2 linked regions of the Homo sapiens genome follow. The protein of the gene in region 1 purifies or fractionates together with the protein of each later gene. This does not show direct contact. Each region holds a gene or a part of one and is shown on either strand. Other genes may lie near its edges. The genes, in order: SLC25A4 and GALNT2.

What was found.
Region 2: the proteins of SLC25A4 (region 1) and GALNT2 fractionate together in Homo sapiens (co-fractionation; 2 studies listed by BioGRID). This does not show direct contact.

The regions. Positions count from the first base shown.
Region 1 is NC_000004.12:185,137,531-185,147,304, forward strand, and holds the start of SLC25A4 (ADP/ATP translocase 1), read left to right. Parts: upstream 1-5,735; 5' UTR 5,736-5,842; coding exon 5,843-5,953; intron 5,954-7,233; coding exon 7,234-7,720; intron 7,721-8,228; coding exon 8,229-8,369; intron 8,370-9,283; coding exon 9,284-9,441; 3' UTR 9,442-9,774. UniProt on the Homo sapiens protein: ADP:ATP antiporter that mediates import of ADP into the mitochondrial matrix for ATP synthesis, and export of ATP out to fuel the cell.
Region 2 is NC_000001.11:230,258,094-230,267,244, forward strand, and holds part of GALNT2 (polypeptide N-acetylgalactosaminyltransferase 2 precursor), read left to right. Parts: intron 1-563; exon of another isoform or gene 564-994; intron 995-1,384; exon of another isoform or gene 1,385-1,488; coding exon of another isoform or gene 1,489-1,670; intron 1,671-4,479; coding exon 4,480-4,572; intron 4,573-4,828; coding exon 4,829-4,912; intron 4,913-7,147; coding exon 7,148-7,274; intron 7,275-9,151. Other genes in the region: uncharacterized protein LOC124904542, read right to left, coding at 1,489-1,670. UniProt on the Homo sapiens protein: Catalyzes the initial reaction in O-linked oligosaccharide biosynthesis, the transfer of an N-acetyl-D-galactosamine residue to a serine or threonine residue on the protein receptor.

The sequences.
Region 1 (9,774 bases):
ACGTTATTCTGCTGCTCCTGCGCCACATTGGAGACATTAAGAGCAGGAAAAGCTGAACGGGGCTCTCTAGGGACCTTCACTCCAGCAGGCTGCCTTCATTTTGCGGACTATGGACACAAGCAAATCCCTCAGGTACCAGGGATCTGTTCTCCGTCTCCCTCATTGCACTTGGATCAACCCTGCAAGGCTGCCTCTGCCCTGTGTGCTGAAACACCGCCCGGCCGTTTCTTCCCCTGCATCTGTGCCTCCCTGGGCTGCGCAGAATACAGGCCCCTCCTTCCCAGGGATCCACACGAGCCTCACATTCTTTGCTTTCTCTCTAACTTTCTTCCTTTCTCTCCAGGTTTGGGAAAACTTCATATAATCTTTGTAAGAGTAGCTGAGCAGGAAGTTTTTTGTTTTTATGGAGATGGAGTTTTCGCTCTTGTTGCCCAGGCTGGAGTGCAGTGGCGTGATCTCCGCTCACCACAGCCTCCGCCTCCCGGGTTCAAGTGATTCTCCTGCCTCAGCCTCCCGAGTAGCTGGGATTACAGGCATGCGCCACCACGCCCGGCTAATTTTGTATTTTTAGTAGAGACGGGGTTGCTCCATGTTGGTCAGGCTGGTCTCGAACTCCTGACCTCAGGTGATCCGCCCGCCTCGGCCTCCCAAAATGCTGGGATTACAGGCGTGAGCCACCGTGCCCGGCTGTGTGCAGAAAGCTTTTTGTTTTCCCTCAAGTATTCTACGAAGTCCACTGGGCTTGAGTTTTTTCTCTTCCTTTGGAAATTCTAATGCCGAGAATAGACTCTTACTTCCTCTGCTTCCTGAATGTTTTCTTTTTCCTGTGGCAGTGACACAGAACGTCTAGCTGACTATGAGGAAAGGGTCATGAGGTAAAAGAACGCATATGGAAGAAAACCCTTATTCATTAAAATAGCAAAATATTGTTCTTCAGTAGTACAGATGATAAAAAATAGTCTCTGATAACATTTGTTGCCTACTGATTTTAATAATAGAAATAAAGCATGTTTTTAAAAATGATTGATAGGATATGTGAAACACAAAACACTAGTTCAAAATGTGTTTAGAAAATGGACCCAGTCAGCTCCAGGTGAGTAACGGTTTTATTCACAGAGGTTGCCCGTGGGCAAAACTGGAAGATGCCAGCCTGGAAGGTGTGTGGTTATGGTCGGAAGGCATTATTATGCAAGCATAAACATTAGCTTCGTTGTGTTGTATGATACTCAATGTGCTTGTTGGACTCTTCAACAAAGTAAAGAGAGGTGCTAAGATTGGAAGTGGGAAAAGAAAGGTTCTGAATCTGTCTGGGAAGTGCACGGGGTCCGCCTGTGTCTATCAGGGGTGTGCTACGGGGGTCCCCCAGGCCTCCCTGCCTCCAGCAACCAAGAGGCCAACCTGAATCAGTTTCCCCCGGAAGCAGAGTGCCTTCTAGGAGAAGTCCCTCTGTCTTTTCTATGATTCAAGGGCTCCTCTGCCCCCTCAAATCACCTCCTTTAAATAATAAGGCGCCAAATCCTTCTAACAAAACTTTTTGTTTCACGAACATTCATAAAACGTAAAAAGTACAAGTTCCGGTGGAGGCAACACACTGAAAGTCACTCTGCTGGAAGTACAACCAGAACCCCCTCTTGGGTCCTTGTCCTTGCCAGGCTGCGTTGGAATTGCCTGTAGGCACCACAGCTATGTCTGTTCCTGGCATGTAAGCTTCTCCACATAGCCTGGGCAACATAGCAAAACCAGGAGACCACAGCAAAACCTGCAAATTAAAAAATATATATATCCGGGCATGATGGTATGTGCCTGTAGCCTCAGCTACTCAGGAGGCTGAAGCAGGAGGATCCCTTGTGCCTAGGAGTGCATGGTTTCAGTGATCTGTGATTGTGCCACCGTGCTCCAGCCAGGGTGACAAAGCAAGATGCTGTCTCTAAAATAAATAAATAAATAAATGCACATATAAATATCTTGATCCTCTTCGCTTAATGCTGAAACTTACCATGTGAACAAACACTAGTAGTGTGTTCTAATTCCTAATACTTTAAATGTACACTTGCACACAGGCATTATGTTATCACCACCATTAGCACATCCTTTATTGTTTTTCTTTATTCCTTGTCACTCTTACTCTTTAGCAACTTCCATTCTCTATTCCCAGTTTGGTAAGAGACTAAGTCTATAAGAGCTTCCACTAAAATTCCAAAAGGCTAACTTTCCACCCTGCTCTCATTTCTACATGGCCCTGTTCCCACCAGCATCTAAGATCCCATCCACGATTGAAAGTAGAGTTTCTTCTCATCTCCTAGATGCCTTGTCCATTCTCCTGCTGGAAGAAAGCCACTAAGTACTGGGTTGGGCGGGTGGACACATGTTCTGCCGAGCGCCATTCTCTCCCCTGCCTGTGTAAGTGATACCAGGATCTTGTGACCACAGGCAGCTCATGCTCCCGAGGGCATGTAAGGCCTCTCTTTTCTGAGAAAGTCCGTGGAAGCAGAGGACAGTGTATGAGTTTCCATGGAAAACCTCTTGTCAAGGATTCCAGCTATGACTCCTTCTATAGAACAGGATAACTGGAGAGTAGCCAAGGAGAAATATATCTCCCATTTAGAAAATATCCAAAACTCTGATTGGTAAAATTAAGTGTAACAAAGATGATACTACTTCCTGAATTCATATATTAATTAATATTTAATTTAGTTTAAATGTCTATTTAAAATCTTCTGGTGATGTTTAAACAATTGAACAACTTGATAGTAAAAATAAATCCAGACACATAAGCAGATAAAACTTTATTTTTTAAGTGATTGTAGAATCATATATCAGCCTATTTTTAAAAAATGAAGATCAAATAAATATGTCATAGTGTGGATATTTCATAAATTAAAGCTATTATGAGAACTTAATATATGACAAACTAGACTTAGTAATATAAGACAAATAATGGAGAGAAGAAAATATCTACTTAAGAATTAGTATTGGGATACCCAAGCATGATATGGAGAAAAGTGAAATTAGACCCATACCTCCATACAATATAAAACGTAGTGTTAGACATTTTAAAAATAGCTACTCAAAGTAGAAGAAAAAAACTGATATATGTACTAGAGTAAATAGACTGCTATATCTATAAAAGAGATACATTTACATCAGAACATGAAATAGATCATCATCATACCATAGATCTGTTCATAACACTAATAGAATGATATAATAAATATCAAAAGGAAAACAACAAAATGAAAAACATTCAACACATATTTATTGTCCCAAATATATAAAGAATTGTTGTTAATATAAATACTCTGCTTTCACTCCAGCAGTAGTCAAGGAAGATTAAAAGTTTATACAAAAGGGAAACCTTGTCAAACTGTCAAATTAAATTGAATCATATGGAATATATACAGCTTCATAGTAATTAAGTAAATACAAACTAAAACTCATAAATAACTCACAAATAACCAACTCTCTATTTTTTTAAAGCCAGTGTTGGAGAAGAGTGTGAGAGAAAGCCCATCTATATAACTGGTGGGTTGGTATTTCTGAAGAGCAATTTGTCAATATGTAGCAAAAGCTACAAAACTTTAAAAATCTTAAATCTATCCATTCCATTTGGGAAATATATGAGAAGAAAAAACTTAGAGGAGAAAATGAAGTTTGTGTAAGTTTCAATGTAGCAGTATTAGTTTTCCTTCCTTCCTTCCTTCCTTCCTTCCTTCCTTCCTTTCTTTCTTTCTTTCTTTCTTTTTTTTTTTTTGAGTCAGAGTCTTTCTCTGTTGCCCAGGCTGAAGTGCAGTGGAGTGATCTCAGATCACCATGACCTCTGCCTCTCGGGGGTCTCGTGCCTGAGCCTCCTGAGCTGCTGGGATTCCAGGCATGAGCCATCACGCCAGGCTAATTTTTGTATTTTTAGTAGAGATGGGGTTTTGCCATGTTGGCCAGGCTGGTCTCGAACTCCTGACCTAGGTAATCTGCCAGCCTCAGCCTCCCAAAGGTATGAGCCACCACACCCGGCCTATTTTTCATCATAAAAATAAGACACAATTCTAATGCACAATTAAAAGGAAAATGGAGGTATAAAAGCAAGTGCTCTATATTACAGGATGGGATACAGTACACTATTATAATTAAAAAGGTTTACTGTGTGGATTATGCTGATCCATGGAAATCAGTAAGTGAAGTTTTGATAAAGTGGAGCAAGTGACGAATACACTGAACTGTAAGGTCTTTGGAGATGGGCCACGTCTACTTATATTCAATCCACAGGGCTACACCTAGTTCTTGGTACACAGTACATGCTCAGCAAGAGTCTGTTGAATGAACACATACATGGTTTATCTGTTTGTCTCTTCCGAGTTCTTGACTTCTGTCTGCTCTGACCTCTGGCAGCTTTCCACTAGTTTCTAGCTTTCATTCTGCTTACCTGGATTTCGGAACTCTAGCCTGCCCCACTCTTAGATAAACGCATGCCCTCTGTGGCCCTGGAACCTTAGTGACTTCTGCTATACCAAAGTCTCCACGCCCAGGGTGACACGCAGCTGCAGCTCCGTAAACCTCTAACATGATGTCAGCAAATATTAAAAAAAAAAAGTTTATAAAACAATGAATAAACTTTGTTAAAGGTACAAATGAAAATTAGCAAACATGGGAAGATAATTGAGTGAAGAGTTTAAAGTTAAAAACGAATTGCAGTCATTCTAGGGGAAGGAACAGTTGTATTTGAAAACCTGTATGGTTACATGAACTGCCTAAAAAACAAGCTAAGGAAAATTAAAGCTCAGATTTATATATTTTAAGAAATTAATTGCAATTAATTTCCTGGGATTAAATAGCATTTCCTCAACCCCAGCTGTCATTAAAAAGAGGCAAATACAGCCAAGGACTGGATCTCCGGAAGGCTGACAGCACTGACCCTCAAGAAGGCACCGGCTGACAGACAGAACATTCTGCCCTAATATGTGCTGAAATTCCGCTGAGAGCAGAGTGGTACATTGAACCCTTTAGGGGCTTACAAAAGAAGTGTCCTGTGTTTTAGAGTCACAGAGTTTTGCAGAAACAAGTATGAATTCACCTAGTGGCCCCCTGCACCAGGTCTTTCCTGTGGGCACTGAGTGCCAGACACATCAATATGTAATAGCAGAATGAATGACTGAACGAACGATTGAATGAAAAGAAATGAGAGGCAGCAGGTTGTCAGATTCTATGAGGCAATCACAGCATCAGGTGACCTTAGTATCTATTTGAGAGGACTGCCATTTATTCTCGGGAGCGCACGGCTCTAAAGAGGCCCATATCCAGGCAGTGAGCTCTGGTGGGGGGCGCCTTTAGATGCAAGAAGGAGGAAACAGCTCGAAATCCCTGGGCCTGAGCGCGGCCCGTGCAGGCCGGAGGGTCAAGAACTCTCCACCGGCGGCAGCGGCCCGGTGTCTGCCCCGGCTTCGCCCCGGCCTAAGGCTGCCTGTGCTATAAATACGCGGCCCACATGCCGCGGTGACACGGTGTTCCCTGGGCTCGGCGGGACAGATAACATGAATGTGCCCTTTAAACGTCCCAAGTTGCAGGGACAGCCCCCGGCCCAGCCTCGCTCCCGGAAGCGCCTTCGCCCCCGATGCCCTCTGCAGCTGGGAGGAGGGGGCGCCCCGCACCTGCCCAGCCAATGCGCGGCGCGAGCGCCGGCCGCGACCCGCCTCCTCTCGCGAGAGCCCGGCGGGGATATAAGGGGGAGCTGCGGGCCAGGCGGCGGCCCCCTAGCGTCGCGCAGGGTCGGGGACTGCGCGGCGGTGCCAGGCCGGGCGTGGGCGAGAGCACGAACGGGCTGCCTGCGGGCTGAGAGCGTCGAGCTGTCACCATGGGTGATCACGCTTGGAGCTTCCTAAAGGACTTCCTGGCCGGGGGCGTCGCCGCTGCCGTCTCCAAGACCGCGGTCGCCCCCATCGAGAGGGTCAAACTGCTGCTGCAGGTGAGGACCGCGCGGTGCAAGAGGCGGGCGCGGGCGCGGCGGGCCGGGCGGGGCGCGCGATGCGGCGCGAGCTGCAGGGCGCGGGGCGCCGCGGAAAATCTGCGCCAGGCCACAGGCCCGGGCGCCCGCCCGCCCGCCCGCCCGCCCGCGGGGGAAGAAGGTGCCCTCTGCGTAGAGACAGGTCCAGCGTCAGTCGCAGATTCCTGGTGTCGGGTGGCGCCCGGCGTTCGGGTGTCTATATATGGAAACCCACCCGGAGCCGGTTTACGTGTGCCAGATCCTGCGCCCGTGACAGCACGGGCGTGCACTCAGGCCCGGAGGCACCTAGTGATTGCCAGTATTTTTGGCACCGTCTTATGCGCACGCACCTTTACAATAAAAACATCAAAATAATCATCACCCAAGAATTCCCTTATCGTATCTCATGCACAATGCTGTATGTAGGCTGACGCCTTCATCTTTATGTAACCTCTGTGAGAGAGTTATTCTTCTCCATTTTACAGATGAAGCTGAGGTTTTGAAATATTAAGAAACAATTTTCGGAATAAACTCAGATCATCCTGTCTCCAAATCTTTTCCTCCCCTACCTGGTCGCTGAATGGTTTATCATCCTCTCGTGTTTTCCTCCACCTGCCCAAAAGGTCAGGGCCCCTCAATGAGGAAGAGCCCAATTTGGGAGTCAGAATTACTAACAACAAAACCCCCACAAATTGCTCACAACGGCAGCAAACCCTTAATAATTGATTACTTGGATTATCTGCTTGAAAACTTTGGAGGCCTAATGTTTAGTGGATTTATTCTCCTTCCTCTATTAGAGCATCTAGTAGAGATCCTCATCTCCAGGGTGATCAGAGTGACACTGAGAAATTGTCATTTTTTGGCCATCATGTCTATTAAATCCAAAGCCCTTTGAAGCAGGGAGTGTTACTCATTTCTGTCCCCCAGTAAGCCCCTCATACAGTTCTCAAACCTAGGGAAAGTGAAATAAATAAATGGCTATAGCTTTATATAATTCAATCACCTTTTCAGTTTATTTGGGGCAATACCTTTTCCCTCAAATACCCTAATAATTGAAGCAACATTGGATTATTTTGGCTTGTTATCCAGTAACTAACATGGATAACAGTATCCATTTACACGTCCTCAGTATCCATTTGATTTCCTCATCCTTTTTTTCTTCAAAAAAAAAATCTAGGAAGTGCAAACCTTTTTTTTTCTCCTGTCCTCTTCCCTTCTCTCTACCCTGCCTGTCCTCTGTCACCCACCCTCCCCTCCACCAGGTCCAGCATGCCAGCAAACAGATCAGTGCTGAGAAGCAGTACAAAGGGATCATTGATTGTGTGGTGAGAATCCCTAAGGAGCAGGGCTTCCTCTCCTTCTGGAGGGGTAACCTGGCCAACGTGATCCGTTACTTCCCCACCCAAGCTCTCAACTTCGCCTTCAAGGACAAGTACAAGCAGCTCTTCTTAGGGGGTGTGGATCGGCATAAGCAGTTCTGGCGCTACTTTGCTGGTAACCTGGCGTCCGGTGGGGCCGCTGGGGCCACCTCCCTTTGCTTTGTCTACCCGCTGGACTTTGCTAGGACCAGGTTGGCTGCTGATGTGGGCAAGGGCGCCGCCCAGCGTGAGTTCCATGGTCTGGGCGACTGTATCATCAAGATCTTCAAGTCTGATGGCCTGAGGGGGCTCTACCAGGGTTTCAACGTCTCTGTCCAAGGCATCATTATCTATAGAGCTGCCTACTTCGGAGTCTATGATACTGCCAAGGGTGAGAGAGGGGCATCGGGGAGAAGGAGGGTGGTGTGGAAAGAGGATCCTATGGGATCTATAACTCACAAAGGACCTGATATATATTGATCTTGTTTTTTCTAGTCTCTGGGATAATTGAGGCTTCTGAATGAGGAGGTGATGTGCATAAGTTAATAGCTGAAGCGTTCCTTGTGTCCTCTACTGAAATAAACTCTGGCCTTTAGTTATTCAGAGAGGAGGAGGGGGGAGCCTGTCTCCCTCTAGACACAGCCATAGCAGTTACTGAGTTTAACTTGAAGCCACTTCCAATGCCCTGTATACAAGCTGAGCACTGCCCCTCCGGGGTCCGGAGAGGGCAGCAGCCACCTTTGCTGTCTGCCTGGTCATATGTGAAGCACCTGCACAGGGGCAGGTTCCCCGCAAGGTCAGAGCATGGAGCTGGAGGTGCAGTGGCCTCTCTCCCTCCACCTGCTTTCTGCTGAGAACAGGCACTTCATAGCCGTTCGGCTTCTGGGCTCTGTCCACAGGGATGCTGCCTGACCCCAAGAACGTGCACATTTTTGTGAGCTGGATGATTGCCCAGAGTGTGACGGCAGTCGCAGGGCTGGTGTCCTACCCCTTTGACACTGTTCGTCGTAGAATGATGATGCAGTCCGGCCGGAAAGGGGGTAAGCTTGTGCTCTACTCATCTAAACTTGTTTGGTTTTGCCCGAGGAGAACATTTTACAGGGCTCCTTTCAGTCTTCCTTACTGGAAATTAATTTTCAAAATTATTTGATAAGGACTTAGGGAAGAAAGATGGTATTAATTCCCCCTAACGTTCTCAACTATCCTATTAGGGAAAAGTATTTTCCATTTTATTAGAGATGATAAGAACATGAATAGTAAGACATTTAGATGTGAATTTAACTAGGTATCCAGCATTATAGAGACCCTAGGCCCTCTTCCCTTAGAGCCTGGGTGCAAAAGCTAGGGAAAAGAAGTAGTTAGCTACTTCTTACAAAGAACTCTTGCTTCCCTCCTAGTTACAGGTGTTAGTGGGATGGGGTGTTTAGCTGGGTAGAGATGGCCTGAAGCAATCTGTTGTGCCAGAGAAAGTTTTGGCTTCTATAGGTTGAACCATACGAAATTGCCACTTTAAAAGTCAAAAACAGTCCAATGTTAGCAGTTTCGTATGTTTCAACGAATAGTTACAGCCTTTTATTTAGACTGCATAACCTCGTGCAGGATCATCTGAGGCTCGGCCTCAGTTCGGTCCTCCATAAAAAAAGGTAACCGCGTAGCATAATACTCCTGCTCCACTGCGCCCTTCTTGTTTCGCAGTTGGGCAGTCCATGAATTACTTGGTTAATTGCCCCAGTTCTTCACTGACCTTGAACTAATGGAGTAGGAATGACAGGAGACCCAGCCTGCCAGTGAAGCAAGGAAGGAGATGTCCAGTGGGATGTTGCATGGAGCTGGGACTCCATGCCCAGATGACCCTGATTTTATAAAACTGGTAACAGTGTGTACAGATATGTTTCAGGGGAAAAGTCTCTTTCCTCCAGCGTTACGGAGCCCTCACCAGCATTTGTTTCCACAGCCGATATTATGTACACGGGGACAGTTGACTGCTGGAGGAAGATTGCAAAAGACGAAGGAGCCAAGGCCTTCTTCAAAGGTGCCTGGTCCAATGTGCTGAGAGGCATGGGCGGTGCTTTTGTATTGGTGTTGTATGATGAGATCAAAAAATATGTCTAATGTAATTAAAACACAAGTTCACAGATTTACAGTGAACTTGATCTACAAGTTCACAGATCCATTGTGTGGTTTAATAGACTATTCCTAGGGGAAGTAAAAAGATCTGGGATAAAACCAGACTGAAAGGAATACCTCAGAAGAGATGCTTCATTGAGTGTTCATTAAACCACACATGTATTTTGTATTTATTTTACATTTAAATTCCCACAGCAAATAGAAAATAATTTATCATACTTGTACAATTAACTGAAGAATTGATAATAACTGAATGTGAAACATCAATAAAGACCACTTAATGCACGCTTTCTATTTTATTGAACTCTTATTAACTGT
Region 2 (9,151 bases), on another chromosome or scaffold:
TAGTAGAGACAGGGTTTCACCATGTTGGCCAGGCTGGTCTCAAACTCCTGACCTCAGGTGATCTGCCCACCTCGGCCTCCCAAAGTGCTGGGATTACAGGCGTGAGCCACCGTGCCCAGCCATTTTTAAACTTTTTGGTTTTTTTTCTTTTTTGAGACGGAGTTTCGATCTCGTTGCCCACACTGGAGTGCAATGGCGTGATCTCAGCTCACCACAACCTCCACCTCCCGGATTCAAGCGACTCCCCTGCCTCAGCCTCCTGAGTAGCAGGGATTACAGGCATGCGCCACCACACCCAGCTGATTTTGTATTTTTAGTAGTACATTTCTCCATGTTGGCCAAACTGGTCTTGAACTCCTGACCTCAAGTGATCCACCCGCCTCAGCCTCCCAAAGTGCTGGGATTATAGACGTGAGCCACCGTGCCTGGCCATTTTTAAACTTCTTAAAAGTACAGATTATACAATACACCTATTATACAGAAGTCAGATTTTTCACATAGGGAATCTGATTTCTGAGAAAACTTTAATAGAAGGCAAAATAACAAGTAATGCTTCTGACCAAATTATCTTCTCTCAAAAACTATGTTTCTTCACAAATGTTGAAACTTCATTTTTGTTCTTTATTAAAACAAAAATGTGATCTTGTACAATAAGCTTTACAAAATCAAACAAAAATATGGATATATGTGCTTTTTCCTGGGGCAGCATGAGATTCTTTATATAGACATATCAGACGCCCCACACCAAAGCCATTGATACCTACCAGCAAACAGTGAGATTTCAGAAAACAGTATGTTAAAGTACTCAAGACATTGCACTCTTTGTTAGAAGAGAAACATTTTCAAATTGTATTTCACAGCCCAGGAGCCTGTATTCTCAAGATTTGGAAAAGAAGCTGATCCAGGGTTTCATTATTTTGGGGCAGCATGGATCTGATTAAAAAGCCCTGCTGTTGACCTTCAGCCAGGTTGCTCTTTACCTCAGTTGACTCATCTGAAAGATAAAGAAGTGGAATTATATCACTGTATTTCTGAGGTCTCTTTCCAGCTGCAGTTTCTCTTAATCTCCTATACAGGTTGAATATCTTTTATCCAAAATGCTTGAGACAAGAAATATTTTGGATTTTTGACTTTTTCAGGATATGGAATATTTATATGTACTACCTAATGAGATATCTTGGGGCTGGGACCTAAGTCAAAGTACAAAATTTGTTTGTTTTATATAGACCTTATACACATAGCCTGAAGTTAATTTAATACAATACTTTTCATAATTTTCTGCATGAAACAAAGTTTGTGTACATTAAACCATCAGAAAGCAAAGGCGTCACTGTGACCGCCCACTGGATTCACCTTGCCCGCTGCCCAGATGGAGCTGACTTACCAAGATGGGAATTGCAATAGAGAAAGAGTTTAGTTCACACAGAGCTGGCTAAGTGGGAGACTGGAATTTTATTACTTAAGTCAATCTCCCCCAAAATTCAGAGGCTAGGGTTTTTCAAGGATAATCTGGAGGGAGCTGGGGACTAGGGAGTGGGTGCTGCTGATTGGATGAGGTGCAATCATAGGGGTGTGGAAAATGGTCCTTGTGCCTGCCGAGTCTGCTTCTGCATGGATGGGTCCACAGGACAAGCTGGAGATCTGGATGGAGTCATCAGAAGTGCAGAAGCCTGAAAAGACATTACAAAAGGCCAATCTTACGTTCTGCAATGGTGATGTTATCTGCAGGAGTAATTGGGGAAGTTGCAAATCTGTGGCTGATTTGTTAGTCCAACAAAGGCAGTCTGGTACCCAGACAAAAAGAGGGTTTGTTTGGGGAAAGGGCTGTTACCATCTTTGTTTTAAAGTTAAACTATAAACTAAGTTTCTCCCAAAGTTAGTTCTGCCTATGCCCAGGAGTGAACAAGGGCAGTTTAGACGTTAGAAGTTAGATGGAGTCAGTCAGGTCAGATGCCTTAAACTGTCAATTTTGTCATTGTTAAATTTTTTGCAAAGGCAGTTTCGTCACTATCTCATGTTGGTGCTCAAAAAGTTTTGGATGTTAGGACATTTTGGATTAGGGATGCCCAACTTGTAATAGATGACATTTAATATTTATTTAATACTTATTTAATACTACCTAAATACTTGCAAATACCTGCAAAAACAAGGAGGGCCTGGACAAAAGTGAGTCTCCCTCGGTGCCACTGTATCTGCAGCACTGAGACTGTTTGGTGTAGATACCAAATAAATACCTGAGTGAACCAATAAATAAATGAATAAAAGGAGCTAGCACTGAGTAGCACATGGAGATCATTCCTTGGGGCTGCCTAGTTATCCTTTTCTATTACAAAGACAGAAAAGAGTTGCTTTGCGTTTAGGAATTTTTAAGTGATTTAGTCACTTAAAAACTTGAGTGATTTGAAAACAGTATGACTGGAGTTGATAAAACCTTTAAATCATTAAGGCTGAAAGGAACCTAGGACATTCTGGAATCAAATCCTTTCATGTCCCTGTTGGGGAAATCCAGGTGCCAGATGTTACAAGTATTTAAGTTAATAACTGGTTAAAAACTGACTAGGCATAGGTTAAGGCATAGGTCACTTAGCAAAACCCCACTAACAATGTTTAGTGGCTCTTCTGAGAAATGATATGTATGATCCAGTATCCCCCAGCACTTTAAGTACTCATTGTTGTATCTGTATATTTTTTAATAGAGAGAAAGTAAAAATTCATCAGTCTCATCACCAAACCAGTTGTGCCATAACACTCTCATAATTTGATGAATTCGTCTGTCAGTATCTATTTCTGTCTCTCTCTCTTGTTTGCTCACTGGCTCTCCTTCTGCCTCTACACACATATCCACTATATGCAATTCTGCAAACTATTTTATTTTCCCACAAGTCCAGGACATCATTTCTGTCAACATGTAAGATGCACACTCATGTTTTTAGTGGTCACAGAATATTTCATTTGATTCCTTCCTCATATTTAGTCATAAAGTTTCTCTTTTTTTTTTTTTTTTTTGCTATTATAAACAAAGCAGAAGTGAGCATATTTTCACATGTATATTTCATTCCTAATTGATTGCTGCCTTGAGATAAATTTCTAGAAGTAGAGCTGCTGGGTCAGAGAATAGGTGCATTCATATGTTCTTATCTGTGTTGAATGGCATTATGGATAATAGTCCATATTCTACTTACTAAAATGAAAAAGTATATATATCACCTTATATGAAAGATATAGGCCCCATACAGAAATTATTTTAATAATGGTATCTCAGATCAGTTGAAAGTTTCGCCATTTTAAGGAATTATTTTAAAAGGCGAGCATTACCTCCTTACTGTATTTATTTTGGAAGAACACAGTGCCTTCCTATGGGGTTCTTAAGGAGGGCTAGCTATAGCCTGAAGTGGGAGTCCACCTTATAGCCGAGACCAGAATATGGGAGCAAAGAGGTTAGCTGTGTGCTTGCTACTTCATGGATGCTTTAAGATAATTCTTGGCAGAATACACTGCTGATACCTATGCAGATGATAGCTTTTAATGCATGTCAGACATTCAAGAGTAGCTTGTCCCAGGGGCTTTATTTATGGCAAATCATGGTTCTCTCTATGAGATTTAAGTACATGGTTTTCTTTCCTTCTAGAAAAGCCGGCTGGGCGCGGTGGCTCACGCCTGTAATCCCAGCACTTTGGGAAGCTGAGGCGAGTGGATCACAAGGTCAAGAGATCGAGACCATCCTGGCTAATGTGGTGAAACCGTCTCTACTAAAATTACACAAAAATTTTAGCTGGGTGTGGTGGTACATGCCTATAGTCCCAGCTGCTCAGGAAGCTCAGGCAGGAGAATCGCTTGAACCCGGGAGGCGGAGGTTTCAGTGAGCCGAGATCTCGCCACTGCACTCCAGCTTGGCAGCAGAGCGAGACTCCATCAAAAAAAAAAAAAGCTAGTGCAAACATGGCAGTCTTTCAGCTTAGCCCCGCAGAAAAGAAAGTGATTTTCCCAGGAACTCTTATCTTATGTAGTCTGAACTTTAATGCAGAGCTGTCTGATAGTGTCGTAGCCGTGACGGAGAAGGCCGTGGGGCCTGGAATCTCCTTGCTGTGCTCTGTGGCCCCGGCCCTCTGTGGACGCGTAATGTGAGAGTTTTTAAAGAGTAACTTTCTTTTGTCCTTCTTTAAGATATAGACCCCAGTCCCTCCTTTAAAATATTGGCTCGTGCTGTAATTTCCACTTTGCCTTTTGCCCTTTGACCATCTGTGTGACAAGAAAGCCATTCCAATGGTTCAGTAAGCACCCGCTGAGGCTGGCTCCCCACAGGTCCAGCTCGAGGTGCTGGTGGGGACAGCCCACCCTCTGCTGTGTGCCGTGATCCCAGCTGGAGCTGCTGCACACCCAGAGGGAGCCGCCTCAGTCACACGCCAGCAGACAGGTGCAAATGGAGTGATGCAGACAGAAAGAAAGGAAATCACACCTCAAGATTTATTTTCTTTCTAGAAACACCCGCCGGGCAGCAGAGGTCTGGATGGATGAATACAAAAATTTCTATTATGCAGCAGTGCCTTCTGCTAGAAACGTTCCTTATGGAAAGTAAGTGGCAGTTCTGCCTTCTCACAATTACTGGGGATTCTTGGGGTGTGGGGGTGGGAGGTAAGGGGCTGCCCCCAGCGTTGAATTCAGCTACCCAGGTGCCAAGGCGGGAAGGGGTTGTGGGCACAGGAGCATGGGCAGTCCACACCACACCACCTGCCCCAACCCTGTTCTCCTCAGCAGATTTTCAAGTTTGATGTAGAAAGCCCATCTATTCTTAAAATTTATAAAGGAATCTTATTTCCCTCTTCTCCAGTATTCAGAGCAGATTGGAGCTTAGGAAGAAACTCAGCTGCAAGCCTTTCAAATGGTACCTTGAAAATGTCTATCCAGAGTTAAGGTAAGTCCCCAGGGATCTGGGGTTTCACTTTGTAAGGGCTTAGAAGCCAGTAAGGCCATAGAAGCAGCAGAGGGGAAATGGAGGTGGGGCTGCAGGCATGAGATTGGGCACCTGGGCCCCAGTGAGAGCCTGTGGTCTCACTCCATGGTGTGGAGCTGAGAATCTGCTCCCAAGTTGGCCTGCTGCTGTCTCTGTCCTGCAGAGCTGCCCTCCCATGCTTCGGAGTCCCAGAGGCAGTCCCCCGGGCCTCACCTTGTTTTTGGCTTGTTCTCCATTGGCAAGGTGATGGGCTGGGTGACCTGAAGGACTGGTGTCTGACAGGCTCTTCGAGTGACCAGGAGCAGTCCCCAGCCTCCGCAAGCATGCAGTGTCTGCAGCCAGCCCTCGATCCCCCCGCCAGGCGCCTTTGCATGCCTCCGATCTGCTGCGCTCACCCTTGCTGCTCCTGTGGGCCAGCAGATAACAGCCCCCACGAGGCTCCCTCCTCCCAGCTAGGTTAATCACATGTGAAACGGAAGTAATAATGCTGCTGCCCCACGTCCCTCCGGAGGATTCATGGCAGAAACACCTTTCTGAGCATTATTTCCACACCCAGCCTCTTGTTTTAAGCGAATACGAGCTCCCCATCTGGAGGGACCTGCTGATAACCTCGTGAGAAGACCTATAGATCCGCTGGGGTGGAGGAGCCATCTGCACTTCATCTTCTTAAAGGGACTGTCAGGCAGGTCGTGCCTTAATGCGGCACATTCCTTATTCTAAATATTCCCAGAGCATTTTACAGCGGCTCACATATCTCCAGCACAGTGCCTGCGAACGCAAGACTTGCCACCATTATCTTTCCGCTAACAGCTCCTTCAGAGCCCTTGTCACGGAGATTTGTTGGACAGTTAGGTAATGCGGCCTCTCTCTGTTGCTCCTGTTCGCTCACTTGGCTCTTTGGAACCGTTTCCTCTGCTTTTCAAGTAACATGCCAGGCGCCAGGTGGCCCATGCCCCCTAGGAGGAGAACAGGAGAGAACACAGCGTCCTTCTCCCTCGGATCCCTGCCGTGCAGGACAGCTTTTGCTGGGGATTGAGAGCACCAGATGGTCACCAGCGATGGTCACCTGCAGCGGCAAGGGTGCACTGGTCACAGTTGCTGGTTGCAGGGCCCTGGTCTTCTTCCTGCCAGCTCTGTCCTCTCGGCCATGTGCACTCAACCCAAAAGAACCCATTCTGCCTCTGTGTCTGGCCCCAGAATATGATGTCTACACCTCCTGCCTGGTGTCCCTATACAACAGATTCTTGACTGTGGGCACTAAGGCGGCTGCTCATCAACTCTCCGTCAGCCAAAGAGGGGCTTCAATTCAGTGGATTTTAACCCAACCATGCCACTCACTTTGCTTTTTCAGTCACAGTTGACTGCCATTTCTCACAGAGGTCACCCATGGTTTGTAGTGACACTGGGCCCCGCACCCACTGAAGACCACATCTGAGGCACTGAGCACCATCCTGGCTGGCAAATCTGCTTCCCCTGTCTGTGGGGGGTGAGGGAGACATCAGCCTCGTGTTTTGTGTCTGTAATATCACCGCCGTTTACTGAGTGCCTCCTACGAGCCAGGCACTGGGCCGTGTGCTTTACACGAAATGTTCTATGTAACACTTGCAGCAGATCTGGGTAGCCCATAGCCTACCAAAGGGCAAATCGAGCTTCAGAGAAAGTGAGTCTTGCCTGAAAGCCAGCACCTGGCAGAGGTGGGCTGAGGTTTGGATCTGGTTCTGAAGCACGTTGTTCTTCCCCGTGGCTGTGGCTTTGTTCACATTAGACCACCTGACAAGTCTGCCCACCTTTCCCGTCTTTACTGGATAAAGGTCAGATCCTAAGTGTATTGGAAAGTTCAAGGCAACAGGATCTGACCACATTGATTTTCTAAATGACTTCCAATAAGACTAACATTGAAGAGTATCAGGAGCTTTTCCTTCCTTTCCAAAAAAAAAAAAAAAAAAAAATGACCTGATATAGAATATAAAGAATACTTCTGCAACATACAGTCTTAAAGTGTTGGAAGTCCAGAGCCTGGGAGAAATGCCGTGTCCCTGACACACACTACCTGTGGTAGGAAGAGGCACGATGCCTAGTCACTGGGTCTTTCTCTCGTTCCTGTCACCTGTCATGAGGCCACTGAGCAAAGGGGCTGGTGGACGGGAGCTGGTGGTCATGTGCAGTGAAGCAGGTGATTCTCACGTTGTTTTTCAGGGTTCCAGACCATCAGGATATAGCTTTTGGGGCCTTGCAGCAGGGAACTAACTGCCTCGACACTTTGGGACACTTTGCTGATGGTGTGGTTGGAGTTTATGAATGTCACAATGCTGGGGGAAACCAGGTATGTGCATGGGGAAGCCAGGTCACCTGCAGGCCCAGAGAGAGCAGGAGTTGGGGGGGTCCTGATGTTAGAAGTCCCAGCTGCCACCTTTCTCCTGGGATGGGTGATGTCTATGAGGAAGCACCTGGCTCCTGCTGGCCACAGCCTCTTTGGCAGCCAGCACCAGGGCCAGATAGAATGTCACACACTTTGGTGCATCAGCTCTGTCATCAGCTTCGGACCAGGCTCTGCTGCAGCGGCAAGGGTGCACTGGTCACAGTTGCTGGTTGCAGGGCCCTGGTCTTCCTGCCAGCTCTGTCCTCTCGGCCATGTGCACTCAACCGCAAAGCACCCATTCTGCCTCTGCGTCTGGCCCCAGAATATGATGTCTACACCTCCTGCCTGGTATGCCTATACAACAGATTCTTAACTGTGGGCACTAAGGCGGCTGCTAGTTATAGCCCCTGCCTGTTAGATAATAGCTTAAGATAGAAGATACTCAGTATTAATTGCTTCCATTGCACACATACACACCTTTTCTGAGAGGCATAAAAATGCACAACCGCCAGGCGCCGTGGCGCACGCCTGTAATCCCAACACTTTGGGAGGCTGTGGTGGGTGGATCACCTAAGGTCAGGAGTTCAAGACCAGCCTGGCCGACATGGTGAAACCCATCTCTGCTAAAAATAAAAAAAAAATTAGCCAAGCGTGGTGGCGGGCACCTGTAATCCCAGCTACCCGAGAGGCTGAGGCAGGAGAATTGCCTGAACCCGGGAGGCAGAGGTTGCTGTGAGCTGAGATCACACCATTGCATTCCAGCCCAGGCTACAAGAGCAAAGCTCTGTCTCAAAAAACAAACAAACAAACAAACAGAAAAACCCACTACCTTCTCTTCTCCCATCATTGCAAAGGAGAGACAAAATGAAGGCTTGATGGGCCCAGCTGAGACTTCGGATTCTAAAAACAGTTTTCCCATGAGATAATAATAGGAATTGGGTGAAATGTGAGCTTCATGCACCAAAGGGTAATCCTGTGTGCTCTTACCCCCTTCCTGAAAACTTGCCTGGCACTGGGAGAGCCTGCAGTTTTAAAAAAGGCAGGTTAACTCCGTGTGTGTATCCTGAATGTATTGATTTCTTAACTTTCTTTAACTGGAAGTATTTTTGAAAGGGGGCATGTGCTTTTGTGTAAAGCTGGGTCCTCCTCCCAAGTGAGTGTCCAGGCAGACTGCAATCCACAAATACCTTGACTCCTTTCTTCACTTGGTGATGTGGTTTTAGCAGTTACTTGCAATGGCCTGGACATCCTAAATTAGAAGAGAGAGAGGAACCTGCCTGCCTGGGGCTTGACTGGGCCAGTCCCCATCCAGCATGGGCATGGGGCAGGTAGCCAGGGCCTGGCCCTGGTTCCCCTAAATCTCCAGCCCTTAAATAGAAGATACTTGGCGTTGATGAGTTAGAAAATGAGAGAGAGCCTCATTTTCTCGTGTGGTTTTGGTAGAGTTGATCCTGGATTCTCCGTATCAGCGTCAACAGTCTCGATGGTTCAGAATAGCTAAATGTGATGCTATGTTTGGGTAAGAGCCAATGGGTCAGGTTTGCCGACAGATATGAGTGTGCTTCCAGTGCCTGTGCACGTGTGTGACACACACACACACACACACACACACACAATAGCACATATGCTCATCACGTTCTCACACAACAGCTCTCTTCTCCTGATTCCCGGGCTCAGTCCCCCTCTCTTCCTTGTGCACATGCACCTAGACTCATGTGCTGCTTCTTTCTTCTTTTTCTGTTACTCAGATGCAGAGCTTGTTTTGCTCTCTGTTTCGTGTACATGACTTCATATCATTGATCTCTGTCCTTTTGATAAATATTGTTGGAGGGTTTTTTACT